Linked DNA regions of Homo sapiens: region 2 is linked to region 1. Evidence: fine-mapped QTL for protein levels in blood plasma. A gene starts in region 1. The other region holds a variant in brackets. All regions are shown on one strand. Distances are between the middles of the regions. Region 1 holds the start of CCL2 (C-C motif chemokine ligand 2). Region 2 has its middle 23 kb from the start of LINC01989.

Evidence for each region. PIP is the posterior inclusion probability: the model's chance that the variant is causal. The UK Biobank Pharma Proteomics Project read protein levels with antibody pairs (Olink). The fine-mapping took linkage between variants from a reference panel, not from the people measured, so its PIPs are less certain.
Region 2: its variant is fine-mapped to the plasma level of the CCL2 protein (UK Biobank, PIP 0.97).

The regions. Positions count from the first base shown.
Region 1 is chr17:34,250,857-34,264,755 of GRCh38, forward strand. It overlaps CCL2 (C-C motif chemokine ligand 2), which reads left to right and starts at 4,429. Exons shown (of 3, transcript NM_002982.4): 1 at 4,429-4,569; 2 at 5,366-5,483; 3 at 5,866-6,347. The coding sequence starts at 4,494. The coding sequence ends at 5,971. RefSeq lists enhancers at 1,008-2,207, 3,151-4,125, 4,126-5,100.
Region 2 is chr17:34,198,237-34,214,186 of GRCh38, forward strand. No RefSeq gene overlaps it. Among named protein-coding and RNA genes, the nearest start is that of LINC01989, 23 kb to the left of the region's middle. RefSeq lists enhancers at 5,872-6,373, 6,374-6,873. The variant T/A (reference allele first, on the strand shown) is at 8,168.

The DNA of each region.
Region 1 (13,899 bases):
TTTGTAAGTTTGCCCAAAATGTGACCCCTCCTTCACCCACCGATCGCCAAGGTTCAAAAATCTGCCCAACCCTTGAGCCCATCTTAAATGTACCATCACGAGCCTTCCCTGGGCCCCTCAGCTGGGACTCTCACCGCTCTGTATCTTTCTGGTTAATGCAATTATTCTGTTCCCTTAGATGACCCCAGCACAGGTGCTAAAGGAGTCAACAAAAGGCTATTGTCAAAAAAGTGTTTCTGTCTCCACTCCATCTGATCTCTGTTTCCCTAAGACCTGCCCATCCCCCTCTCCCAGTTCGGCACCTTGACCCCCTCATCACACTGCTCAGGCCACCTTGTACAATGCAAGCCCCAAATGAGGAAAGCATTTTCTCCCCCAATGTGTAACACGAAAGTGCTGTAGAGTGGCTCACGCTGCCTTTAGCCTAAGAATTTATTTAACTCTTACCCCCAACCCACATCAGTCTCCTCCCTCTAGGGCTCAGGTGCTAATCTGTGAGGGCTGGCTCAGAAGACAATCTAAAGAACAAGCCTCTTGCTTCCTCAGGCATCACTACTCCTCACCACCATCACCCCCACCCACCAACTCAGGCCACTACTCTTTCTGTTCTCATATGCTATGCCCATCGCCACCCCTATTCCCATGCTCAGGAGTATTCTTGGCTACTGCATGCAATTAGACCTGGGGCAGATCCAATCCAGAAAGCAAGAAATCTTAGATGCTGGAAGCTTGGGGTAAGTACTGATCAGATTTATTCCTAAATTCAGTCCTACTTTCCATGGATTCTTACTTTAGCATCTCTTCTGAAAAGGAAGCATCATGTCTAATTCACTTCTCCCTCCCTGTGCAGTCCTCTACCTGGTGCTCTGCACAGGGTATGTGCTAATTGTATGAATGTTATAATAAAGAGATAGTGCAGTAGATGACAAAGGGCACTACATTGAGAGCCCAGAAATAAGCAAACCAGCACAAATGTAGCCATTCGTCTTCTATCTCACCTTGAGCCTGTCACTAACCTGTTCATGGCCTCAGTCTCCCCATCAGAGAAACAGGTAGATGGTCTCTAAGGTCTCGTTCATTTTCTGACATTCTGTGAAAAATTAAGGAAAGATTTTCATCCTTGACAGGAAAGGGATTGCAGAGTAGCGGCCCTGGGAAAATGGGCTCTATTCTACCTGGAGCTAGCCTGGAGGAGAGGCCTTGAGTGGGGGTTGTCTAGAAAGGACATGGTGAGTGCAGAGCTACGGTGCATCTCTCTTGAAGGCTGAGTGAAGGGAGCACCAGCAAGGGAGCCTGCACTAGGTGGGGAGGGACAAGTGAACCGCAGAAGTTGGTGGGAGCCCAGGCAGTGGCTTCAGATCTTTCCAGAGAGCTCACTTTTACTTCCTCTTTTTTTCACCCCTGACACTGAGTGGGAGTCTGCAGCGATGACCAAGGTTCATGCAGAGGATCTTAGTGGTGGGGTCAGACCCCGGGAGGAATGAAGAAAGCATTATTCACCAAGAGGAGCTTTTCCATTCTTTATCTATGAGTTGATAGAGAGGAGGCCCCGGGGTAACTGAGGATTCTGGACAGCATCAGAGCATTGACCCTCATTTTCCCCATAGCCCCTCTGGGGGCCTTTCCCTTGTGTGTCCCCAAGCGAGAGTCCAACCCAGGTTTGTGCCAGAGCCTAACCCAGGCTTGTGCCGAGATGTTCCCAGCACAGCCCCATGTGAGAGCTCCCTGGCTCCGGGCCCAGTATCTGGAATGCAGGCTCCAGCCAAATGCATTCTCTTCTACGGGATCTGGGAACTTCCAAAGCTGCCTCCTCAGAGTGGGAATTTCCACTCACTTCTCTCACGCCAGCACTGACCTCCCAGCGGGGGAGGGCATCTTTTCTTGACAGAGCAGAAGTGGGAGGCAGACAGCTATCACTTTCCAGAAGACTTTCTTTTCTGATTCATACCCTTCACCTTCCCTGTGTTTACTGTCTGATATATGCAAAGGCCAAGTCACTTTCCAGAGATGACAACTCCTTCCTGAAGTAGAGACATGCTTCCAACACTCAGAAGCCTATGTGAACACTCAGCCAGCAAAGCTGGGAAGTTTTTCTCTGTGACCATGGGCTAATTGGTCTCCTTCTCTGGATTGTGGCTTTATCAGATAAAAACAAGTGGTCATGCCACAGGATGTCTATAAGCCCATTGATTCTGGGATTCTATGAGTGATGCTGATATGACTAAGCCAGGAGAGACTTATTTAAAGATCTCAGCATCTTTCAGCTTGTTAACCTAGAGAAAACCCGAAGCATGACTGGATTATAAAGGGAAATTGAATGCGGTCCACCAAGTTCATGGTAAAGGATGCACTAACTGATTAGAGAGAGGTTTCCCCTGATATGAGGAAAACTTCTTGGAAGATGAGGTGAGATGGCCTAGGAAGAAATTCCTACACAAAGTTGCACAGTCTCTAGTCCTGGAAACATTTTATTCATTGGATAAGAATGGATTGAGGCATGAGCAGAGGACTGAGACAAACACAGAGAAGTTTCAACACTGGTTGGGGAGAAAAGGAGTAACTAGTGAGATTCAGGCAGAACAAGAATAAGGCTCCTCAAGAGGCACAAGCAAAGCAGGGCTCGAGTTGATTTGTTCTCTCTTCATCCTGCTTTTTGTAATTCCACCAGAGTCTGAAATGGCCACTCCATAGAGTCTCTGCTCTGGGATTCTCCAGGAAACCAATATCCATCATGAGACATCAAGTCTAGTCCCAGGAAGAAGAGATTCTGGAATGGAAACATCCTGGGTGGGAGTCTCAGCACATCTACTATTCTGTCTGAGTTACTGGACAAATAACTTCAGTTTTAACCTAACGAAAGCTGGGTTGGTTGGAGGACTGGGCAGGCAGCGCTGGAAAGTATGTCAGCACCATACCTGACTCCCTGAATGCACTCAACAATGCCATTACTGACCACTTACTAGAAATAAAACAGTCATTTGTTGAATACAACCCGTTTCTTTTTACAAGTGTAGTGAAAAGTGTTTTCTTTCAAGAAACCCCATGCATTTATAGACATTGCCTCAGTGACCCTTTATGAAAGAAGTCACTAGTCTTTGTATGCCCATTGGGCAAGGGCACCGCAAGGCTCAGAAGGAGGAGGCAGTGGGCTAGGAGAATCGAGAGATCAGAATTTTAAACTCAGCCCAGCCATTAACATGCCTCAAGTACTCCTATCATATTTGTAAGAGACAACAGTTCACTGAAATGAATTCTAAGGTCTTTGGGTTTTTATCAGTGTGCTTCTGTAGTTTCTGAGGAAATCTAAGGCACAACTGAGGAATGAAGTCAGGCTTTCCAATTCCCGAAATACTCCTCCACTGCTTACTCATGTCCCTTGGAAATTAAGAAGGAAGCCAGGAGAATAGCTGCCATAACCAGGGATGAACTTCTTGTCCACTGCTGCCTGCTATGCTAGCAACAGCCTCCTAACTCATAATGACTTAGCCATGAGGAATGTTTCTAGATTCTCCTTTAGCTGTCTGCCCATTTGGAAGATGCTGAGGACAGAGAGAGGACCCAAGCAGGCAACTAGTTGGAGGACTTGTACACGTTTCCTTCCAGCAGTATGTCAGAGAGGTGGCAGCCCACTGGGGACAGGGCTGCCTGGGTTCTGTGCTCGAGGGGACCTTGAGCAGGCTATTTAACCCTTCTGTGCCTCAGTTGCCTGATCTATAACATGAAAATTAGCAATCCCTACTAGATAAAGTTGGGGAATTTACAGAGTTAATATTTGTAAAGGTCTGAGAATATTCCTGGCAGAGTAAGCACTCTGTGAGTATGACACTGGCATTTCTTCTGCAGCACTACATGCTGTCTATGCCTTTGTCCAAGTCTGAAACCCTAGAACTCTTAGAATTCAGTTCAATGTTTACACAATCCTACAGTTCTGCTAGGCTTCTATGATGCTACTATTCTGCATTTGAATGAGCAAATGGATTTAATGCATTGTCAGGGAGCCGGCCAAAGCTTGAGAGCTCCTTCCTGGCTGGGAGGCCCCTTGGAATGTGGCCTGAAGGTAAGCTGGCAGCGAGCCTGACATGCTTTCATCTAGTTTCCTCGCTTCCTTCCTTTTCTGCAGTTTTCGCTTCAGAGAAAGCAGAATCCTTAAAAATAACCCTCTTAGTTCACATCTGTGGTCAGTCTGGGCTTAATGGCACCCCATCCTCCCCATTTGCTCATTTGGTCTCAGCAGTGAATGGAAAAAGTGTCTCGTCCTGACCCCCTGCTTCCCTTTCCTACTTCCTGGAAATCCACAGGATGCTGCATTTGCTCAGCAGATTTAACAGCCCACTTATCACTCATGGAAGATCCCTCCTCCTGCTTGACTCCGCCCTCTCTCCCTCTGCCCGCTTTCAATAAGAGGCAGAGACAGCAGCCAGAGGAACCGAGAGGCTGAGACTAACCCAGAAACATCCAATTCTCAAACTGAAGCTCGCACTCTCGCCTCCAGCATGAAAGTCTCTGCCGCCCTTCTGTGCCTGCTGCTCATAGCAGCCACCTTCATTCCCCAAGGGCTCGCTCAGCCAGGTAAGGCCCCCTCTTCTTCTCCTTGAACCACATTGTCTTCTCTCTGAGTTATCATGGACCATCCAAGCAGACGTGGTACCCACAGTCTTGCTTTAACGCTACTTTTCCAAGATAAGGTGACTCAGAAAAGGACAAGGGGTGAGCCCAACCACACAGCTGCTGCTCGGCAGAGCCTGAACTAGAATTCCAGCTGTGAACCCCAAATCCAGCTCCTTCCAGGATTCCAGCTCTGGGAACACACTCAGCGCAGTTACTCCCCCAGCTGCTTCCAGCAGAGTTTGGGGATCAGGGTAATCAAAGAGAGGGTGGGTGTGTAGGCTGTTTCCAGACACGCTGGAGACCCAGAATCTGGTCTGTGCTTCATTCACCTTAGCTTCCAGAGACGGTGACTCTGCAGAGGTAATGAGTATCAGGGAAACTCATGACCAGGCATAGCCTATTCAGAGTCTAAAAGGAGGCTCATAGTGGGGCTCCCCAGCTGATCTTCCCTGGTGCTGATCATCTGGATTATTGGTCCGTCTTAATGACACTTGTAGGCATTATCTAGCTTTAACAGCTCCTCCTTCTCTCTGTCCATTATCAATGTTATATACCCATTTTACAGCATAGGAAACTGAGTCATTGGGTCAAAGATCACATTCTAGCTCTGAGGTATAGGCAGAAGCACTGGGATTTAATGAGCTCTTTGTCTTCTCCTGCCTGCCTTTTGCTTTTTCCTCATGACTCTTTTCTGCTCTTAAGATCAGAATAATCCAGTTCATCCTAAAATGCTTTTTCTTTGTGGTTTATTTTCCAGATGCAATCAATGCCCCAGTCACCTGCTGTTATAACTTCACCAATAGGAAGATCTCAGTGCAGAGGCTCGCGAGCTATAGAAGAATCACCAGCAGCAAGTGTCCCAAAGAAGCTGTGATGTGAGTTCAGCACACCAACCTTCCCTGGCCTGAAGTTCTTCCTTGTGGAGCAAGGGACAAGCCTCATAAACCTAGAGTCAGAGAGTGCACTATTTAACTTAATGTACAAAGGTTCCCAATGGGAAAACTGAGGCACCAAGGGAAAAAGTGAACCCCAACATCACTCTCCACCTGGGTGCCTATTCAGAACACCCCAATTTCTTTAGCTTGAAGTCAGGATGGCTCCACCTGGACACCTATAGGAGCAGTTTGCCCTGGGTTCCCTCCTTCCACCTGCGTTCCTCCTCTAGCTCCCATGGCAGCCCTTTGGTGCAGAATGGGCTGCACTTCTAGACCAAAACTGCAAAGGAACTTCATCTAACTCTGTCCTCCCTCCCCACAGCTTCAAGACCATTGTGGCCAAGGAGATCTGTGCTGACCCCAAGCAGAAGTGGGTTCAGGATTCCATGGACCACCTGGACAAGCAAACCCAAACTCCGAAGACTTGAACACTCACTCCACAACCCAAGAATCTGCAGCTAACTTATTTTCCCCTAGCTTTCCCCAGACACCCTGTTTTATTTTATTATAATGAATTTTGTTTGTTGATGTGAAACATTATGCCTTAAGTAATGTTAATTCTTATTTAAGTTATTGATGTTTTAAGTTTATCTTTCATGGTACTAGTGTTTTTTAGATACAGAGACTTGGGGAAATTGCTTTTCCTCTTGAACCACAGTTCTACCCCTGGGATGTTTTGAGGGTCTTTGCAAGAATCATTAATACAAAGAATTTTTTTTAACATTCCAATGCATTGCTAAAATATTATTGTGGAAATGAATATTTTGTAACTATTACACCAAATAAATATATTTTTGTACAAAACCTGACTTCCAGTGTTTTCTTGAAGGAAATTACAAAGCTGAGAGTATGAGCTTGGTGGTGACAAAGGAACATGATTTCAGAGGGTGGGGCTTACATTTTGAAGGAATGGGAAAGTGGATTGGCCCCGGTCTTCTCCACTGGGTGGTCTCCTCTGAGTCTCCGTAGAAGAATCTTTATGGCAGGCCAGTTAGGCATTAAAGCACCACCCTTCCAGTCTTCAACATAAGCAGCCCAGAGTCCAATGACCCTGGTCACCCATTTAGCAAGAGCCCAACCCCCATTCCTTTTCTCACAGACCCTGACCCCTGCATGCAATTCTTCCCTTAACATATTGCAACTGCCCCCTAACTGGGCTACCCACCCCCCAATCTGTACCTCTCCAATTAATACCCCAACCTGGAGTAATACAGACACTGCCAGTATTAGGAAATAAGGAAAGAGTTAATCACCATAGATAAGATGATTAGATTGAAGTTTCATAGAGATGATGAGACCTGAACTTATTATTTATGAATGAAGAAGGCTTTTCTAGGAAAATTATAGGATCATTAAGAAAGGAGAAGGAAGAGTGGGAGCAAATACCTGGAGGTAGAAATGGTGATGATGTGTACATCAAGCAGGGAGAAAACCAATGAACCAGATGCGAATTCGGGCCCACACCAATGTCAAGGGATGACAATTAGAAAGGAAGGTTGAGTCAAGGGATTTGAATGTTAGGGTGAAAAGTTACTACTCAACTCTGTAGGTTAAAAGGAAACGTTGAGAATCTTCAGTCCAATGAGGAGGGATGTGCCATGTTTAGAGATTCAGAGATAAGTTTCAGGAAATGTAACTTATAGATTTTATACATACACAGAGAAATACGGACTAGTGAGAAGCTATTGCCATGGTCCAAGCAAGAGATGATGAAGGCCTAAATATGGAGCCAAAGAGGCAGCAATGAAGAATGAGCCATGCAGGGTGAAATGCTGCATGTTGTAAATGGAGGAGAAAGACCTGTGACTTCAGATATGAAAACCTCATCTTCAACCCACATTTTAAGGGGGCAGCTTCCCTGAAACCAGAATGTGTTTCCCTCCATTACTATACCCCCATCCCAATCTCAGGCACCTGGAATCATCCATTTAAACAGATGAGCCTTCTATTCCTAAATAGCCACCTGAAGTGTGTATTCCTTTGCATGATATTTGTCCCACCTAAAGCATTCGACCTGCCTGGGCACCCACACCACGCCAACACTCAGGAAAGCAGATGTCTTGCTCTGTTGAATAAACTGCATGGTTCTTAACTTCCCAGTCTGGTGGGGAAATGACCACTGTGTCAACCTAGAGCAGGCAGTGCTTTTGGCAGCATGAGGTGCTGGGGACAACTTTGACTGGCAAGAAGCACACTCAGGTTCTCACCCCGCATCCAGCGCTGACTCGCTTTGTCAGTCAAGACAGGTCAGATATTCTGAGCCTACATCGATCATACAGGTATGATAATGTGTTACAAATAGGAACCCAGAGGAAAGGTTCCCTTTCGGATCTGGGAGCACATCTGTTGGAAAACTTCCATTTCTACTAACTGGAGTTGCAGAGGGAGAGAAGGGATTCTGCTTCTACATTCCTGAGCCAGTCCAGGGTCCCTGAATCAGACTACCGAATCCCTTCAAAGCTCCAAGTACCCTGATATATCAGTCAGCAGACAATTTATTGACAGCTATTTAGAAAACTCACTGACCCTCACTCCAGGTCAAGCAGCGTCCCCTGCCTCTCCTCTACCCCTACATTCCCTGGCCTTGATCACCAGTCAGGAGTGAAATCTCAAATTGCAGTAGATGCCAAGAGGCAAAAAGAGAATAGAATGCAAACAAATGAGACCTCATCATACGGCTTCCGAGCAGCAACCTTTTGACGCCAGGCAGATTTGAGGCAGACAGTCTGGGAGGAGAGGAGGCAGAGAAAGGGGGGATCCACATGCTCAAACCCCAAATTAATCTGCTTACATTCCCCTTGCAGGCCACATCTCTTCATTTTCAGGAAGTCTTGACTCCATACTGTTTTCCACCCAAGCATGGAATTCCTTTCATGATGAAACTGAACACAGGGCATTGGCAGTGGTGAGACTCTGTTTTAGAAGAAAGTGCCAAGTGCAATGCATTCATTTCCTGTTGCTGCCAACAATCAGTTCCAGGAAATCTAGGCTTTTTATGTCATGCTCAAAATTCTTCCAGCCTATGCTCATTATTCAAATCCAAAGCCACATCCACATCTGTAGGTGTTAGTTACAGAAGCACCATATTTCCAGGTACCAAAATCTGTATTAGTTTCTTATTGTTACTGTAACAAATTCCCATAAGCTTAATGGCTTAAAACAACAAAAATACATTGTCTTATAGTTCTGGAGGTCAGAGTTATCATGGGTCCATAGGGCTATATTCATTCCTTCCAGAGGTTCTATGGGAGAATCCATTTTCTTGCTTTTTTCCAACTGCTAGAGGCTACCTCAATTCCTTAACTCATGGTCTCTTCCTGTGTCTTCAAAAACCTCTCTCTCTCTCTCTCTCACTCCTTTTCTTTCATAGTCACATCTTGTCTCTGACTCTGACTTTCCTGCCTTCATCTTAAAAGGTGATTATATTGTGATTATGCTGAGCCCATTTGGATAATCCAGGATAACATCTTCATCTCAAGATTCTTAAGTTAATCACATTTATAAAATTTCTTTTGCTATGTCAGGTAGCATACTTATAGAGCATAGGGATTCGATTAGGATGTAGGCTTTTTTTTTTTTTTTTTTTTTTTTTGGAAATGGAGTCTCGCTCTATTGCCCAGGCTGGAGTGCAGTAGCACAATCTCAGCTCACTGCAACCTCTGTCTCCTGGGTTCAAGTGATTCTCCTGCCTCAGCCTCCCAAGTAACTGTGATTACAGATGTGCACCACCACACCTGGCTAATTTTTGTATTTTTAGTAGAGATGGGGTTTTACCATGTTGGCCAGGCTGGTCTCGAACTCCTGACCTCAGGTGATCCACCCGCCTCAGACTCCCAGAGTACAGGTGTGAGACACCACGCCTGGCTACAAGGATGTGAGCATCTTTGGGAGGGGAGCACTACTGGGACAATCACAGCCAGGAGCCAGGTGAAGATTTACAATAGGTAGTTGGACACTAAGACATGGCCTTTGAGATCTGTATCTGGTTTGGTGACTAGATTGTCAGGTAAACTTTTGCAAGTCACCTTTTATCTATGGGTTCATAGGCTGTGGATTTAATTTGTGCATTAAATGCTTCCTAAGTGACCTAAGGTATATTGGAGTCACCTGAGGTCTTTCCAAAACATCACAACATCCTCAAAGATTCTGATTTAGAATGTTACAATGCAGGGAAGGCTCCTCTTCCCATTGCTGTATTTTACGAGTTCCCTAGAAGATGGATACTGGTGCACAGATGAGTTTGATGCCATGTGCTCCTCAGTTCTCTCATATTCAGGTCATTGGAGCCAACAGCCAGTCCTGGTAACCTCTGACTTGGGTTTTCATAGTGTCCTTTGTTCTGACCTAGCCTTGACCAATTTACAATCAGGAACAAAAGGGAGCATAGAGTCGAGACATTTAGGACATTGTAAAGTTTGAAATACAACTGTTCACCATCCCAGGCAGTGGAATGGAATTTTTAAAAATGATTTGAACAACAAAATATCCATAAAACCTTTCAGTTTGACAGAGTGGCTTCAGGAAGAGAGTGGGTTAACAATGTGGCATTCCCATTCTAGCCCGGCAGCCTGATCCTAAAAGACAGTTATGGGTCGGGTGTGGAGGAAGCACAGAAATATGTCAAGCACTGCGAGTAGAAAGAGATTTTACATGTCTTTACTGGCAGATTGGAAAAGTGCTAGTAATTTTTTGAGAAAATTATGTTGCCAGGAAAATCAGAAGCCAAGACTGAAAAAGCCTTTGACTATTCTATCTATAAAACAACTTCCGAATCTTCCATGAGCTAGAAACAAGCCATGACAGCCACTGAATTAGGAGGGCATGTCCACTGAGTTCCATGTACAGTATGGCCAAGGAGAAGAAATGGACAAGCAAGGGCCTCACAGAAGGTGGATCTGGGGCCCCGGACAAGGAAGCCCTTCCTGCAAGTGAGCTCAGAGCCCCTGTTCCTGTTCCAGGAAGAGTCCCTTTTGATGTCTGCCCAGCAGTATATCAGAATTGCTACAAGTCAGTCATTGCTGTGTGTCCCCCAGTCTTCCTTGTCCAATGAGAATGTTTACTTTAAGCATCTTGTTCCTATTCCACCTTGTAAATGAGTGTTTAAATTGAGCAGATAAATTGTTCATTTTTTAAAAGTACTGTCAATCTTTCATTTGGAGGCTATAAAATTCATTTCCATAAGGTATCATTATCTCTTTTTTAAAGTTTTCAATTTTGAAAAATTTTGGTTAAAAAATGCATACCATGAAATGTATCATATTTACCATTTTTAAGTGTATACTTCAGTATTGTTAATGTTCATATACTTAACATTGTTGTGCAATAGATTTCCATCTTGTAAATCCATCTTGTAAAACTGAAACTGCATACTCATTAAACAATACCTGCTCATTTCCTCCGCTGCCCAGCCCCGGCAACCACCATTCTACTTTCCTCTTCTATGAATTTGACTACTTTAGGTACCTTCTGTAAGTGGGATTATACAATATGTGTCTTTTGGTGAATGGTTATTTTATTTAGCATAATGTTCTCAAGGTTCATTTATGTTAAGGCATGTGTCAAAATTCCCTTCTTTTTTAAGGTTGAATAATATTCCATTGTATGTATATACCACATTTTGTTTATCTGTTCATTCAGTGATGGACAGCTGGGTTGTTTTCATCTCGTGGTTATTGTGCAGGATGCTGTTCTGAATGTGGATATGCAAATGTCTCTTCCAGATTCTGCTTTCAGTTCCTTTGGATATATACCCACAAGTGGGATTGCTGCATCATTTGGTAATCATATTTTTATTTTTTTAAGATCTACCATATTGTTTCCATAGTAGCTGCACCATTTTACATTCCCACCAACAGTAAACAAAGATTCCAGTTTTATCGCATCCTTGTCTTCGCTTGTTATTTTCTGTCTTTTTGATACTAGCCATCCTAATGGAGGTGAGGTGATACCTCCCTATGGTCTTGATTTGCAACTTTCTAGTATTAGTGATATTGAGCATCTTTTCAGATGCATGTTGGTCGTTTGTATATCATCTTTGGAAAATGTATATTGAAATCCTTTGCCTATTTTTAATTGGGTTATTTGTTTTGTATTGTCGATGCTGTAGAAGTTCTTTTTTTTCTTTTGAGACAGAGTTTCACTTTGTTGCCCAGGATGGAGTGCAGTGGTGTGATCTCAGTTCACTGCAACCTCCACCTGCTGGGTTCAAGCGATTCTCGTACCTCAGCCTTCTGTGTAGCTGGGATTACAGGCACACACCATCACACCCAGCTAATCTTTTGTATTTTTAGTAGAGACTTGGTTTCACTACTTTGGCCAGGCAGGTCTCTAACTCCTAGCCTCAAGTGATCTGCCTGCCTCAGCCTCCCAAAGTGTTGAGATTACAGGCGTAAGCCACTGTGCCCAACCTGAAATTCTTTATATATTCTAATGTTAACCCCTTATCAGTTACATGATTTGTAAGTATTTTCTCTCATTTCATAGACTGACTTTTCATTCTGCTGATTGTGCCCTTCAATACACCAAAGTGTTTAAGTTTGATGTAATTCCATTTATCTATTTTTGCTTTGGTTCCCTGTGCTTTTGGTGTTATATCAACAAAAAAAAAAAAAAAAAAAAAAAAAAACAGCCAAGCGCAGTGGCTTACGCTTATAATCCCAGCACTATGGGAGTCTGAGGCGGGCAGATCACTTGAGGTCAGGAGTTCAAGACCAGCCTGGCCAACATGGTGAAGCCCCATTTCTACTAAAAATACAAAATTAGCCAGACATGGTGGTGAATACCTGTAATCCCAGCTACTTGGGAGGCTGAGGGAGGAGAGTCATTTGAACCTGGGAAACAGAGGTTGCAGTGAGCTGAGATCGTGTCATTGCACTCCAGCCTGGGCAAAAAGAGTGAAATTCCATTTCAAAAAAAAAAAATTGTCAAATCCAATATCATAAAGATTTCCCCCTACTTTCTTCTGGGGGTTTATAATTTTACATCTTGCATTTAGGTCTTTGATCCATTTCGAGTTGAATTTTGTATATGGTATAATATAAGGGTCCAGCTTTTTTTTTTTTTGAGACGGAGTTTCACTCTTGTTGCCCAGGCTGGAGTGCAATGGCGTGATCTTGGCTCACTGCAACCTCCGTCTCCCGGGTTCGAGCGATTCTCCTGCCTCAGCCTCCCGAGTAGCTGGGATTACAGGCACGCGCCACCACCCGGGCTAATTCTGTATTTTTAGTAGAGACGGGATTTCTCCATGTTGGTCATGCTGGTTTTGAACTCCCGACCTCAGGTGATCCACCCGCCTCGGCCTCCCAAAGTGCTGGGATTACAGGCGTGAACCAGTGCTCCCAGCAAGGGTCCAGCTTTAATCTTTTCATTTGGATATCTAGTTTTCCCAACATCAACTGTTTAAGAGACTGACATTTCCTTACTGAGTGGTCTTGACATCCTTGTCAAAGATCATTTGACCATATACAAGAGATTTTATTTCTGGGCTCTCTATTCTATTCTACTGGTCTATATGTCTGTCTTTATGCCAATAACACATTATTTTGATTATTGTAGAATTGTAATATGTTTTGAAATTGATAAGAGTGAGACCTTCAAGTTTGTTTTTCTTTTTCAAAATTGTTTTTGACTATTTGGAATTATTTGATATTCCATGTGAATTTTAAGATGGGTTTTTCTATTTTGGCAAAGATACCATTGGGATTCTGATAGGATTGCACTGAATCTGTAGATTACTTGAGTAGCATTGTTAAGCTGTCAATCTCAACAATATTAATTCTTCCAATTCATACACCTGGGATGTCTTCTCATTTATTTGTATCTTCTTTAATTTTGGGCAATATTTTGTAGTTTTTGTTGTTCAAGTTTTTACTTCTAGATATTGGCTTATCCCTAATATTTTATTCTTTTCAATGCTATTGTAAATGGAATTGTTTTATTAATTTTCTTTTCAAAGTGTTTATTGTTCATGTATATAAAATGTCTGATTTTTGTGTGTTGATTTGTTGTGTTGTATTTGTACTCTGCCGAATTCCTTTATTAGGTGTAACAGTTCTTTTGCATGTGTGAAATTTTCAGGGTTTTCTACATATAAAGTCATATCATCTGGAAACAGATAATTTTACTTCTTCCTTTCCAATTTAGATGACTTTTTTTCTTGTTTTGTTCAGATGGGTCTCATTCCAGTACTATATTTAACTGAAATGACAGAAGCAAGAAAGTGCTTTCAGTCTTTTTCTATTGTGTATGTTTTTAACTGTGGGCTTTTCATACATGGACTTTATTATGTTGAGGTAGTTTCTATTTCCACACTATTTTCCTAGTGTGTTGAGTATTCTTATCATGAAAAGATGTCGAA
Region 2 (15,950 bases), 52 kb before region 1:
TAACTGCCTACAGTATTCAGCACAGTAACACGCTGTATGGTTTGTAGCCTAGGAGCAAGAGGGTGTAGCAGTAGGCTATACCATCTAGGTTTGTGTAAATACACTCTATGACATTTGAACAATGATGAAATTGCCTAACAATCCATTTCTCAGAATGTATTCCTGTCATTAAGTGACACTTGACCATGTAAAGTTTTTAAAAGAAAACACAGGAGAGTATCTTTGCAACCTTAGTTAGACAAATATTTCCTGAAGAAGACATAAAAAACACTAATGAGAAGAGGAGAGGACAGGAGAGGAAAGGAGGAAAGAAGAAAAAAGAAAGAAAGAAACAGAGAGAGAGAGAAAAGAAAGAAAAGAAAGAAAGAGAAAAGAAAGAAAGAAAGAAAAAAGAAAAAGAAAGAAAAAGAGAAAGAAAGAAAGAAGAAAGAAGAAACAGAAAGGAAGGAAGGAAGGAAGGAAGGCAGGGAGGGAGGAAGGAGAAAAAAGAAAGAAAGAAAGAAAAGAGGAGGAGAAGGAAGGAAGGAGAAAGGGAAAGACAGAGAAAGGAAAGAAAGGGAGGGAGGGAAAAGAAAAGACAAGAAAAAGAAGTTGCTACATTGGACCTTAACAACACTGAAAACTTCCCTTTGAAGACACTAATGTGAAATTGAAAAGACATGCCACACGATGGAGAAAATACATACATCTGACAAATGACTTATATTCAAAATATAAAAGGAATTCTTACAAGTCAATACTAAAGAGGGCAAAATAACTCTAATAGCCACTTCCTAAAAAGACACACAGATGATCAATAAGCACCTGAAAAAATGATCAGCATTGCTAATCATCAACAAATTGCAAGTTCAAACCACGATGTGATGTAACTTCATACATTAAAATAGCTAAAAGTTAAACAAAGAAAACTAGCAAGCTCTGGTGAGCATGTGGACAATCGGAATTCTTGTAGTAGGTACGTAAATGGCATAATTACTTTGGAAAAATGTTTGTCAGTTTCTTACACAGTTAAACATGCATCTACCTGCGACCCATCAATTTTACTTCTGGAAATTCGCCCAAGATAAATAAAAACCACACAAAGGACTCACAAAGTTCACCCAAAGACTTATACACAAACGTGCCTGCAGTTTTTTGCACCACAGCATAAATCTGGAAACAGTCAAAAAATCTATCAAGAGGATGGATAAATGAATTATGTATTTATTCACTGAAATACCACTTAACAATAGAAGAAAACAAACTGCGGATACCTACAAAAGCATGGATAAATTTCAAAAACAATTTGTTGTGCTAGAGAAGCTAGACACAAAAGAGTGTATACTGTACACTTCCGTTTATATAAAGTCCTTGAAAGGGCAAAACAAACTATAGCAAGAGAAGTCAGATCAAGGATTGCCTGGGGTAGGTAGGAAGTGGTGAAGATTGACTACCAAGCGCCATGAGAAAACTTTGTGGGATAACAGAAACGTTCAATATTTTGACTGGGGCGGTGGTTCCACGTGCATATACAGTTGTCAAAACTTATCAATGTGTACATTTAAAGAGCATGCGTTTTGTTGTGTGAAAATAAATTGTATGTGAATAAATGTGATTTTAAAAAATAATAAAGTTCTCCACATATTTCTTAGGTCCCTTAAAGAGTGAGCACTGCTTGTCAGTGCCAGAGCCTCTGTCTCATTAATCTTTTAATCGCAGTCTATACAATATCTGGCACTTGGTAAGTGCTCCCCAGGTAGAGTTTGAGAGAAGGTAGGTCGGGAGAGCACGCATTGTTGGAGGGGTGTGAGGAGGAACAGAACACAAGCAGGACTAGACAAATATGCTCTTCTGCTAGAAACCTCTTTCACCATAAGGTGGCAGCAGAGAGCACCTGGCAATGTCTTTACCTACTTAATCCAGCAGGTGACAGCAGACCCACACTAACCTCTACACGAAGTTGCATTTTCCCCTCTCTTTCCTACGGTTACCACAATCTCAGCCCAGCCACTCCGCCAGGCAGAAAAGGGAGACTTAAATGGAAAAGAATAAGAACATACCCATGATCCCCATATATGACGGGCACTGTTCTCCATGCTTAATAGGCAACATGTAATTATACTTAATGTAATATCCATGCTTAATAAACAGTATTTCATTTCCATGCCCATCCTTTATCATGGGTATGATTTTCTTTGTTGTAAAGACAAGTAAACAAAGCTTCAGAGAAGGAGAACATGTTCCTAATCACGGATCTAGAAGTGATAGCGATGGAGTTTGAGTCTGCTTTTTCTTTCCATGTCATCCTGTCCAAACCTATAGACCAAAATGATCCATACAGAGGTTATGTATTGGTGTTCACTGCAGCAGTGTTCTAACTGCTCATGTGCATTAGCTCATGTAATCTTCACAACGAGTTGAGGTAGGAACAGTTGTTATCCCTATTTATTTTATTTATTTATTTATTTATTTATTTATTGTGTTTTTGAAACAGTGTTACTCTGTCACCCACTCTGGAGTGCAGTGGTGCGACCATAGGTCACTGCATCCTCAAACTTCCAGGCTCAAGCAATCCTCCCACCTCAGCCTCCAGAGTAGCTAGGGCTACAGGTGTCAGCCATTGTGCCTAGCCTGGTTATCGCCATTTTAAAGGTAGGCAGTGACACTGAGACACTGATAGGTTAATGAACTTGTAAAGTTCACATCATTAGTAAAAGCTGCAGCTGCCACTGGAGTTCAGGGTCTGACCCTGAACCTTAATCCTTCACTGCAGAACTAGCTACCAAGTGACCACTTTGACGAGCCTTGAGGAAAAGGCGGAGGGGGCTTTAGCACACACTCAGCTAACGAAAGTGTGCCGGTTCATTTCCCACAGCTCCACACAAACTCCCAGGGGTAGTAAAGAATAGCTTCTCCCTCCTCTGTGTCCCTGAGAAGTCCCAGGGGCATTCAGAGATTTACTGTCATCCCTGTCCAACCCATAGGAGTCTTCTAAGACCCATGCTTCTTCACCCATCTAGCCAGCCAGCCTTTATTGAGTACCTACTGAATGCCAAGCCTTAATTATGAAAACACAGAGCCTTTCTTCAAAGAGCTTTCATACTGAGGGGAAGATCACATGCAAAAGCAAGCAAAAGCAAAACTGCAGAGAGATACTTCTGCTGGTGACTAATTACCATGTGGATGGCGCAGAATTTCTGTCTAGTCAGGGAGGACTTCCTGTAGGAGGGGAGGTCTTCCACTGAGACTTAGAGGGTGAGTAAGGCTTGAAGAGATGGAGAAAGAAGTCAGGATACAGTCTTGGCCTGAGTGAAGAGGTTTAGTGAGAATAGAGAGGTCAGCTAGGCCAGAGGGAGGGTCTTGGGAGGAATAGCTGAAAATACAACTGGAGGGGTTGGTTGGGGGCATATTGTGGAAGGTCTTGAGGGCTCAGATGAGAGCCTTTTTGTATCTCTTAAACTGATGGCTTATGAATGGCTGGAAGCCATTCAAAGTGCATAGAAAGAGAGTGGCAAGAGGAAGCCAGTTCCTAGGAAATTAACATAGGCAAGCCTGTGCAAAAAGGAATGGAACTGGGGAGCCTGCAGGGGCAAGAAGAAGGGACCTAGTCCATGTGGAATGTTTCCTATGTGTCAAGTACTTAGTATTTAGCCTACGTTATGACAGCTAATTCTCCGTAGAGCCCTGAAAGATCTGTGCAGTTATCATCTCTGGTTTATAAATGACTAAAATGAGACACAGTGAGGTTAAACATGTTTCTCAAGGTTACCTGACTAAAACCAAAAAAGCTGAGTTTCAAACTCCCACAACCTAACACCAAAGCTCGCTTTCTTAACCACTATGCTCGACTGCCTTTATATCATGGGTCATGCAAAATCCAACCTAAGTCTAAGAGATATTTAACCTCATCTGAGACATCTATCAGGTTGGAAAACATTTAGGGCTCTTCCCTGAAAGATGCCACTGTGCTCAAAATAGGCAATGTCTCTAAACGAATAATTAGAGAGGCATTCTCAGTGTTAGAAGTGTGGAAAGCTGAGGACCATGCCTGGCTTGTGAATTCAGAGGCTATAGTAATAAATACTTGATAGTGTTTATTCTTTTAAGAGGCTGATGGGAATCACAGTGGCCCTCAGGAGAGAGAAGCCATCAGAGAAGGGCAGCAGTGGTGCCAATGCTAAACACCTCCATCATCTCTTCCTTGAAAGGCAGGGAGGGCATAAATACCTTGCTGCCACACTGGAGGCGCTCAGGAAGACCTGGAATAATTGGAGAGAAAGCACTCCTAAAAGCAAGTAGAAACTGCCTGCAGCTCTTTTGGTGTGGTTGGATGTGGTTGCAGATTTATCTGGCTTATCTTCTCAGGCATAGAATAATTGCTGTCCTGCAGGGCAAGCTCCGAAGAGATTTCCCCAGAAGCAAGCAGAGTCCTGTCTAAAGCAGAAATAGCCATGGCATAGCAGCAGCACCACCCCGCGGAGTTAGCTACTAGCGCTGTCACGCATGTTGGAGCTACTGCAGGAAGAGGTGGCAGCATGGGGGGAAAGAATGGGAGGTATCAGGTCTGCATGGAAGAAAACTGGAAACAAAGCCACTGGCTCGTGAGAGTTTGAAGCTCATGAGAATTTAGGGAAAACTTCCACATACACGGCTCTGTACTCTTCAGCTTTCAGAGCTCCAGAAGATCAGAGTCCAGGGTGGAATCTGTCATTGAGAGAAGAGACTTGGAAGACAGTGGCTGCAGGGAGGAAAGTGATGGCATTGTAGTGATGGAGAGCTTAGCCCTTGTCTGAATGAGGCTCTGACAGGTGTGGTCACCTATGACAAACCCGTGGGTAATGTATACAAGAAGGCTGATAGTTGTGGCACTGAGCCATCTTCTAAAAAGACCACATTTGAAGGGAAGAAGAAACCTTGCTCAGTGAGATTAATCAAGCAAGGACTTCTTGGTTAGGGAAGGCAAACTGTTTTGATGCATTGGTCAGGATAGGCTAGGTTGTGCTGCAGTAACAAGCTATCCCCAGACTTCAGCAGTTTTTAACATAAATGTTCCTTTCTCACTCATCCAAAGCACCTTTCTGGGCAAGGACTCTGTTTTTCATATTCCATCAGGGACCCAGCATCTGGGATGTCACCAGTTGCTGAGTCAAGGCAAGAAAGAACTAAGTGTCCTGGGCTTTAACGGGAAGTGATATCACTTCTAGCCACGGATTGGAACTAGTCACATGGACCCAATTAATGCAAGGGCAGCTGGAAGGTGTCAAGGAGCAGAGTGGGGTCTGGTGAGCACCACCTTCTCTGGCGTGCTTAGCAGAGTCTGGTGTCTGTCATTCCAAGAAATCTCTGACTGAGCTCCTAAGGATCTATGACTTATGAGCCCCTGGGGGACTCCAAATAAAAACTAAAAGAATCATTTTACTAAGAATTCTGTGAGGCATTGAGGTAGAGCCACACTGCCTGGACACTGCTTCTTTGGACAAGCCTCACACAAAGAGGGAAGATGCATGCCCTCTTCCTCAGAAACAACTGTACATCATGGCATTCAACATACCAGGAGCAGTGGCACCAGTGATCCCCAACAGAATGCCACTAGCCTTCTCAGAGCAGAGGCAGAGCCTGGCATAAATGGATGTGTCTGTTTGAGTGTTGGCAGCACATGAGAGCCCCACTGGGTCTGATTGTGCCTGGGGACTATTTCAGAAAGCTAAGATCTTTGTTATGCATGTGGAGAACAAGAGCTGGAGATGGTGACCTCCTATTGAGTCTAATAAGACTGGTAACACTGATTGGATTATGTCCATATTACAGATGAGGACCTTGAGGTTTGGGGAAATTAACGGCCTTTCCAAAGTCACCTGGTTAATGCATGGCAGAGCCAGAGCCTGTTGACCCTATTGCATGATTTGAAATCATCATGTTTGGGAGGCATGCACTGTGTAAGAAGACAAGGAACTGGAGCCAGGATGCCAACTTCCTGAGTGACCTTGGGCACATTATTTGAGGGCCTCCATTTCTCTATTTGTAAAGAGTAAAGCTGGATGAGATGTCTCAAAGTCTTTTCTGTTCCCACTGAAGGTCTGTTGCTGCAACCCCATTGGAGCTGATGACAGACTCCATCAGCTGGAAGTCTGCTCAACCTGCTCCACCTGCTCTACCACCTCCAGTACCTGGAAGTCCAAAATTAGGAGAACAGAGCCCACGGCCTCATGCCACCACACCTGCTTTCACCAGCTCCTGGAGAAGTTGGACAGCTAGAGAAGGGAAAGCATGCTGGGCTGGAGCCCAGTGGGGTCACACTGTGGGCTCCCTGCTACTGTCCTCTGCTCCAACCTGGCCAGCCACCAGCTCGGCCCTGGGGTGGGGAGAGGTGGCATCAACAGTCAGGAGCTGCAGCCTGGGGGCTGCCCTGCCCTGCAAGGCTTCTTGCTGTATGTCATTCTTGCTGTATGTCCTTGCATGCGGCCTGGCCCTGCCTTAAGCAGGGGCCTGCTCCTGACAAGCAGCTCAGCTAGGGAGGAGAGGCCATTGCAGCAGATGGGCGGATGAAGACCAGGTGGGAGCATGAGGCCAGATCACGAGAGTCCTGAGCCCCCCATGGAAGACCGTTCCAGGCCATCCCTGGCCCTGAGTGTCATCTCCCACTATCCCTGTCACTAAGGTCCCCCATAAGTTTGACTTTGCAAGCTCCCTCCCCGAGATTTAGGCATCCTTGGGACTTAGCTCCTCTCTCTAGCACCCGCGTGCACGGAGTCCTCCCCATCGCCGGAGCATGAGTCCATGCTTGAGACTAAGCCTTCTCCCCATGCCTGGCACTGAGTGCCATCCACGTTATGATGTGCAACTGAGCCCTGACATTGAGTGGCCTTTACCTACCTGACACCTAGCACCCCTGATGTCCCATAGTTAGTGCTTCCCTGATAGAAGAATGCCTCTTATCCTCCTCAGCAGGTGGCCTCCCTCCCACTTTGGCAGTCTCTTGCTGTGACCCTAGCCCCACTTGGCGTGTCATCTCACCATTACAGCCTTAGCTCCTCTGTTCAAATGTAGCCAGCACCTACTGAAGTTGTACCATGTGACAGTGATGTTCAATGCTCTTGTTAAACACACAAACCAGGCTCCCAAGCTTCTGTCTGTGCCCTTTCTCCTCTACTGCATGCCCTCATTCCCCTCGGCACACTGAATTCTCCCTGGGTAGCCTCTGCAGTTCTGGGAGAACCAGTACCCATCAGTGCTCTAGGGCTCCCAAGTCCTGCAGCCTTCTGGGAATGCCTTTCCTTTCCCATCTGCCATCACACTAATGATAATAGTCGGCCACCTCCAGGATGCCCTAGGATTCCCAAGGTATTACATTCTTTGTGGCTTTTTTCACTTCTGAGTCAGAAAGGCTACTCTGAGCTTTCCCTCTCACCTCTGAACACTTCTGCAAGCCAGACTTGAACCCAACATTTCCACCACCTTCCTCCTGGGCCTTCCCTACTGCAAAGCTAACTCAAGGTTGGGTGATGTCACTTGTATCATGAAGGTTTCAGCAATTGCCATGTGGGAGAGAAAACAGCTGAATGTTAAATACCAGGTTCCATTCTTGAGTCAATGGTCACCTTAAACCCCAACCTGCCCTAGGAACAGAGCCCCTTCTGCCATCTCTTTCTTTTTTTTTTTTTTTTTGAGACAGAGTCTTGCTCTTTTGCCCAGGCTGCAGTGAAGTGATGTGATCTCGGCTCACTACAACCTCCATCCCTTGGGGTTTAAGCGATTCTCCTGCCTCAGCCTCCAAAGTAGCTGGGATTTCAGGTGCCCGCCACCACACCTGGCTAATTTTTGTACTTATAGTAGAGACACAGTTTCACCATGTTGGCCAGGCTGGTCTCGAACTCCTGACCTCAGGTGATCCACCCGACTCAGCCTCCCAAAGTGCTAGGATTACAGGCATGAGCCACTGCACTCAGCCTCTGCCATCTCTTCCTTCCCTTGGGACCCACTCCAGCACTTACGCCCTTTAATAGAAACCAAAATGCCACTCACCCAAAAGTAACCTCAAGCAAGGAAGTTGTCCTTCCACTTTCTTACCCCCAGAAATGACCTCTTTATTTCTCACCCTCCCCTTCCTCATGAGGCCTTGAGATCTGAAACTGCTGAACAGCAGGGGCCCTGAAAGTGTTTTTCCAAATGGAATAACATGCTTCCTTCC[T/A]CATCCAGTGAGCTAGAAAGTGGCTGCAGTTTGTTTGCAGTAGCAGTTTTTTGTTTTTTATTTTTTACCGCTGCACATACATTTTCAAAGACATGGACCTCACTGACCCTCCCAGCATCATTTGGCTTCAGGCCACATCACCTACACCACTTCTTGACAGAGCCAAGAGTGATGCTGGAAGGGGAAGCAGGAAGCAGAAGAAGAAAGGGACCCAGAACAGTGGAATGCAGGAGCTCAGGGGCCACGCAGGAGTGTGGTTCTGCGTCTGGCCCAGGCACATCACACCTGCCTTGGGCATAGTATCCTCAAACCTGCTAGTTGAGGGGCGGGAAAAATTCACAGAATATTTTAGTGATTTCTTGCTCAGATAATCTGAGATTTGCCTCTAAATCATGAAAGTGAGCCTGAGGCCAAGCATCAGGCCTTCAGGGAATTGAGATTGGACACAATGATAAACTTGAATTCCCAGCCCAATAAACTTATCTCTCTGGCAGGAACTTGCAGAGGCAAGTATTCCAGACCAAGCTTTGAAGGAACACAGTGGAATAAGAAAGCAAGAAAATAAAAAGTTGCTGTGTATCACTTGTATGCCAAGTAATATTCATCTATTATATCATAGCATTATAAAATTGAGATATAATTTATACTATGCCATAATATTCATCCCTTTAAAGTGTACAGTTCAGTGGTTTTAGTATATTTACAATGTCATGCAATGACCACCACTGTTTAATTCCAGAACATCCTCATTACCCCCATACTTCTTTGCAGTCACCCCTACCTCTTCCCAGTCCCTGGCAGCCACTACTTTGTATCTTCTCAGATTAGCCTTTTCTGAATGTTTTACATACCATATGCGGTATTTTGTGATAAATACCTTTGACTTAGCATAGTGTTTTCAAGGTTCATACATGTGGTGGTATCTTTAATCTTTTACTCATTTTTATGGCTATACAATACTCTATTATACAGATATATGACATTTTATTTATCCATTCATCAGTTATTGAATATTTGCATTCCTTCTACCTTGGGCTATTATGAAAAATGCTATGAACATGCATGTATAATTTTTTTTATATGAACACATGTTTTACATTTTCTTGGGTAGATACCTAGGGTAGAATTGCAGGGTAATATGGTAACTCAATGTCTGCCTTTTTGAGAAACTGCCAAACTGTTTTCTGTGGTGGCTGTTCCATTTTACCTTCTCAACAACAATGTATGAGGGTTGCAATTTCTCCATATTCTCACCAATACTTAGAAATGTTCATCTTTTTTATTGTAGCCCTTCTTGTGGGTACGAAGTGGTTTGTCATTGTGGTTTCGATTTGCATTTTCCTAATGACTAATGATGTTGAGCATTTTTTCATGTGCTTATTGGTCATTTGTGTATCTTCCTTGAAGGAATGTCTATTCAAGTCATTTGTCCATTTAAAAAATTGGGTTGTCTTCTATTGTTGCATTGTAAGAGTTCTTTAAATATCCTGGATACAAAACTCATAACAAACATGATTCAGTTATATTCTCCCATTCTGAAGACTATCTTTTTACTTTATTAATAGTGTCCTATGAAGTACAAAAGTTTTCATTTTGGAGGAGTCCAATTTAACTGTTTTTTTCTTTTGTTGCTTGTGCATTTAGTGTCATATCTAAAAAACATTGCCTGATCTAAGGTCATGAAGATTTACTCATATGTTTTCTTCTAAGAGTTTAATAGTCTTATCTTTTACATTTAGGTCTTTAATTCATTTTGAAATAATTTTTTATATGGTATGAGCCAGGGGCCTAACTTTATTTTTTTGTATGTGGCTAACTGGTTGTCCCAGCACCATGCAGTGAGGGACTATTCTTTCCCCATTGAATTATCTTGGCACCCTTGATGAAAATCAATTGACCATGAGTGTGAGTTTGTCTCTGAATTCTCAATGTTATTTTATTGGTCTATACATCTATTCTTATGCCAGTACCACACAGTTTTGATTACTGTAGCTTTGTAATAAGTATTGAAATTGTTAATTGTGAGTCTTCCAACTTAGTTCCTCTTTCTTTTTTTTTTTCTTTCCTTTTTTTTTTTTGTGAGAGGGAGTCTCGTGCTGTCACTCAGGCTGGAGTGCAGTGGCACAATCTCAGCTCACTGCAAGCTCTGCCTCCCGGGTTTACACCATTCTCCTGCCTCAGCCTCCCCGGTAGCTGGGACTACAGGCACCTGCCAACACCACGCCTGGCTAATTGTTTGTATTTTTAGTAGACACGGGGTTTCACCATGTTATCCAGGATGGTCTCGATCTCTTGACCTTATGATCCACCTGCATCGGCCTCCCAAAGTGCTGGGATTACAGGCATGAGCCACAGCGCTCAGCCTCTTAGTTCCTCTTTCTTAGGACTCTTGAGTATTCTAGTTGCTTGAATTTCAATATAAATTTTGGGAGCAGCTTGTCAATTTCTACAAAAATGGCAGTGATATTTTGATAGAGATGGTGCTTAATCTGCTAAACAATTTGAGGAGTATGTTAGCCAGAGTTCTTCAGAGAGCCAGAACCAATGGGATACATAGGTAGAAAGATTAGATTAGATTAGATAGATAGATAGATATGAGAGGGAATTTATTAGAGGAATTAGCTCACATGATTATGATGGCTGAGAAGTCCCACCACAGGCTGTCTGTAAGCTGGAGACGCCTGGCTTAGTCCAAGTCCAAGGGACCCAGAATCAGAGAAAGCGGTGGTGTAACTCTCAGTCTGAGGCTGAAGCCCTGATAACCTAGGGGGGCACTGGTATGAGTCCTGAAGTCCAAAGGCCAGGGAGCCTGGAGTTCTGATATTCAAGGACAGGAGAGGAAGAGTGTATCCCAGCTCTAGCATATAGATGGACAAATACACTTCTGTTCTGTTTTTGTTCATTCTGGGCCCCTGCCAACTGAATAGTGCCCACCTACATGGAGGGTGGATATTTTCCACCTCGCTCAGTAAGAATCACATGCTAATCTCCTCTAGAAACATCCTCACAGATACACTCAGAAGTTATGTTTTACCAGCTTTTTAGGTATTCCTTAATCCAGTCAAGTTGACTCCTAAAACTAACCATCATAAGGAGTACTGCCATCTTAACAATATTGTTTTCTATTCCATGAACATGTTTTTTTTTGTATGCTTAAGTCCTTTTTAACTTATTTCATTGATGTTTTGTAGTTTTCAGTGTACAGGTTTTGCATTACTTTTATTAAATTTACTCCTAAGTACTTTATTCTTTTTGGTACTATTATAAATGGAATTGTTTACTTAACTTCACTAAATTTCCAATGTATAAAACCATAATTGATTTTTTCTTTTTATTTTTTATTTTTATTATTTTTTTTATTATACTTTAAGTTCTAGGGTACATGTGCACAATGTGCAGGTTTGTTACGTATGTATACCTGTGCCATGTTGGTGTGCTGCACCCGTTAACTCTTCATTTACATTAGGTTTATCTCCTAATGCTATCCCTCCCCCACCCCTCACCCCACGATAGGCCCTGGTGTGTGATGTTCCCCATCCTGTGTCCAAGTGTTTTCATTGTACAGTTCCCACCTATGAGTGAGAATATGAAGTGTTTGGTTTTCTGTCCTTGTGATAGTTTGCTCAGAATGATGGTTTCCAGCTTCATCCATATCCCTACAAAGGACATGAACTCATCATTTTTATGGCTGCATAGTGTTCCATGGTATATGTGTGCCACATTTTCTTAATCCAGTCTATCATTGATGCCCTTTTGGGTTGGTTCCAAGTCTTGGCTATTGTGAATAGTGCCACAATAAACATACATGTGCATGTGTCTTTACAGCAGCATGATTTATAATCCTTTGGGTATATACCCAGTAATGGGATGGCTGGATCAAATAGTATTCCTAGTTCTAGATCCTTGAAGAATCGCCACACTGTCTTCCACAATGGTTGAACTAGTTTACAGTCCCACCAACAGTGTAAAAGTGTTCCTATTTCTCCACATCCTCTCCAGCACCTGTTGTTTCCTGACTTTTTAAATGATCGCCATTCTAACTGGTGTGAGATGGTATCTCATTGTGGTTTTGATTTGCATTCCTCTAATGGCCAGTGATGATGAGCATTTTTTCATGTATCTGTTGGCTGGATCTATCTCTTCTTTTGAGAAGTGTCTATTTATATATTTTGCCCACTTTTCGATGGGGTTGTTTGGTATTTTTCTTGTAAATTTAAGTTCTTTGTAGATTCTGGATATTAGCCCTTTGTCAGATGGGTAGATTGTAAAAATTTTCTCCCATTCTGTAGGTTGCCTGTTCAATCTGATGGTAGTTTCTCTTGCTGTGCAGAAGCTCTTTAGTTTAATTAGATCCAATTTGTCAATTTTGGCTTTTGTTGCCATTGCTTTTGGTGTTTTAGACACGAAGTCCTTGACCATGCCTATGTCCTGAATGGTATTGCCTAAGTTTTATTCTAGGGTTTTTATGGTTTTAGGTCTAACGTTTAAGTCTTTAATCCATCTTGAATTAATTTTTGTATAAGGTGTAAGGAAGGGATCCAATTTCAGCTTCTACATATGGCTAGCCAATTTTCCCAGCACCATTTATTAAATACGGAATCCTTTCCCCATTTCTTGTTTTTGGCAGGTTTGTCAAAGATCAGATGGTTGTAGATGTGTGGTATCATTACCAAGGGCTCTGTTCTGTTCCATTGGTCTATATCTCCATTTTGGTACCAGTACCATGCTGTTTTGGTTACTGTAGCCTTGTAGCATAGTTTGAAGTCTGGTAGCATGATGCCTCCAGGTTTGTTCTTTTGGCTTAGGATTGTCTTGGCAATGCGGGCTCTTTTTTGATTTCATATGAACTTTAAAGTAGTTTTTTCCAATTCTGTGAAGAAAGTCATTGGTAGCTTGATGGGAATGGCATTGAATCTATAAATTACCTTCGGCAGTATGGTCATTTTCACAATGTTGATTCTTCCTATCCATGAGCATGGAATGTTCTTCCATTTGTTTGTGGCTTTTATTTCATTGAGCAGTGGTTTATAGTTCTCCTTGAAGAGGTCCTTCACATCCCTTGTAAGTTGGATTCCTAGGTATTTTATTCTCTTTGAAGCAATTGTGAATGGGAGTTCACTCATGATTTGGCTCTCTGTTTGTCTGTTATTGGTGTATAAGAATGCTTGTGATTTTTGCACATTGAGTTTGTATCCTGAGACTTTGCTGAAGTTGCTTATCAGCTTAAGTAGATTTTGGGCTGAGGTGATGGGGTTTTCTAAATATACAGTCATGTCATCTGCAAACAGGGACAATTTGACTTCCTCTTTTCCTAATTGAATACCCTTTATTTCTTTCTCCGCCCTGATTGCCCTGGCCAGAACTTCCAATACTATGTTGAATACGAGTGGTGAGAGAGGGCATCTCTGTCCTGTGCCAGTTTTCAAAGGGAATGCTTCCAGTTTTTGCCCATTCAGTATGATATTGGTGGTGGGTTTGTCATAGATAGCTCTTATTATTTTGAGATACGTCCCATCAATACCTAATTTATTGAGAGTTTTTAGCATGAAGCGCTGTTGAATTTTGTCAAAGGCCTTTTCTGCATCTATTGAGATAATCATGTGGTTTTTGTCGTTGGTTCTGTTTATATGATGGATTATGTTTATTGATTTGCGTGTGTTGAACCAGCCTTGCATCCTAGGGATGAAGCCGACTTGATCATGGTGGATAAGCTTTCTGATGTGCTGCTGGTTTCGGTTTGCCAGTATTTTACTGAGGATTTTCACATCGATGTTCATCAGGGATATTGGTCTAAAATTCTCATTTTTGATGTGTCTCTGCCAGGCTTTGGTATCAGGATGATGCTGGCCTCATAAAATGAGTTAGGGAGGATTCCCTCTTCTTCTATTGATTGGAATAGTGTCAGAAGGAATGGTACCAGTTCCTCTTTTACCTCTGGTAGAATTCGGCTGTGAATCCATCTGGTCCTGGACTTTTTTTGGTTGGTAAACTATTGATTATTGCCACAATTTCAGCTCCTGTTATTGGTCTATTCAGAGATTCAACTTCTTCCTGGTTTAGTCTTGGGAGAGTGTATGTGTCGAGGAATTTATCCATTTCTTCTAGATTTTCTAGTTTATTTGCGTAGAGGTGTTTGTAGTATTCTCTGATGGTAGTTTGTATTTCTGTGGGATCAGTGGTGATATCCCCTTTATCATTTTTTATTGTGTCTATTTGATTCTTCTCTCTTTTTTTCTTTATTAGTCTTGCTAGCGGTCTATCAATTTTGTTGATCCTTTCAAAAAACCAGCTCCTGGATTCATTGATTTTTTGAATGGTTTTTTGTGTCTCTATTTCCTTCAGTTCTGCTCTAATTTTAGTTATTTCTTGCCTTCTGCTAGCTTTTGACTGTGTTTGCTCTTGCTTTTCTAGTTCTTTTAATTGTGATGTTAGGGTGTCAATTTTGGATCTTTCCTGCTTTCTCTTGTGGGCATTTAGTGCTATAAATTTCCCTCTACACACTGCTTTGAATGCATCCCAGAGATTCTGGTATGTCGTGTCTTTGTTCTCATTGGTTTCAAAGAACATCTTTATTTCTGCCTTCATTTCGTTATGTACCCAGTAGTCATTCAGGAGCAGGTTGTTCAGTTTCCATGTAGTTGAGCGGCTTTGAGTGAGATTCTTAATCCTGAGTTCTAGTTTGATTGCACTGTGGTCTGAGAGATAGTTTATTATAATTTCTGTTCTTTCACATTTGCTGAGGAGAGCTTTACTTCCAACTATGTGATCAATTTTGGAATAGGTGTGCTGTGGTGCTGAAAACAATGTATATTCTGTTGATTTGGGGTGGAGAGTTCTGCAGATGTCTATTAGGTCCACTTGGTGCAGAGCTGAGTTCAATTCCTGGATATCCTTGCTAACTTTCTGTCTCATTGATCTGTCTAATGTTGACAGTAGGGTGTTAAAGTCTCCCATTATTACTGTGTGGGAGTCTAAATCTCTTTGTAGGTCTCTAAGGACTTGCTTTATGAATCTGGGTGCTCCTGTATTGGGTGCATATATATTTAGGATAGTTAGCTCTTCTTGTTGAATTGATCCCTTTACCAATATGTAATGGCCTTCTTTGTCTCTTTTGATCTTTGTTGGCTTAAATTCTGTTTTATCAGAGACTAGGATTGCAACCCCTGCTTTTCTTTGTTTTCCATTTGCTTGGTAGATCTTCCTCCATCCCTTTATTTTGAGCCTATGTGTGTCTCTGCACATGAGATGGGTCTCCTGAATATAGCACACTGATGGGTCTTGACTCTTTATCCAATTTGCCAGTCTGTGTCTTTTAATTGGAGCATTTAGCCCATTTACATTTAAGGTTAATATTGTTATGTGTGAATTTGATCCTGTCATTATGATGTTAGCTGGTTATTTTGCTTGTTAGTTGATGCAGTTTCTTCCTAGTCTTGATGATCTTTACAATTTGGCATGTTTTTGCAGTGGCTGGTACCGGTTGTTCCTTTCCACGTTTAGTGCTTCCTTCAGGAGCTCTTGCAAGGCAGGCCTGGTGGTGACAAAATCTCTTGGCATTTGCTTGTCTGTAAAGTATTTTATTTCTCCTTCACTTATGAAGCTTAGTTTAGCTGGATATGAAATTCTGGGTTGAAAATTCTTTTCATTAAGAACGTGAATATTGGCCCCCACTCTCTTCTGGCTTGTAGAGTTTCTGCCAAGAGATCTGCTGTTAGTCTGATGGGCTTCCCTTTGTGGGTAACCCGACCTTTCTCTCTGGTGGCCCTTAATATTTTTTCCTTCA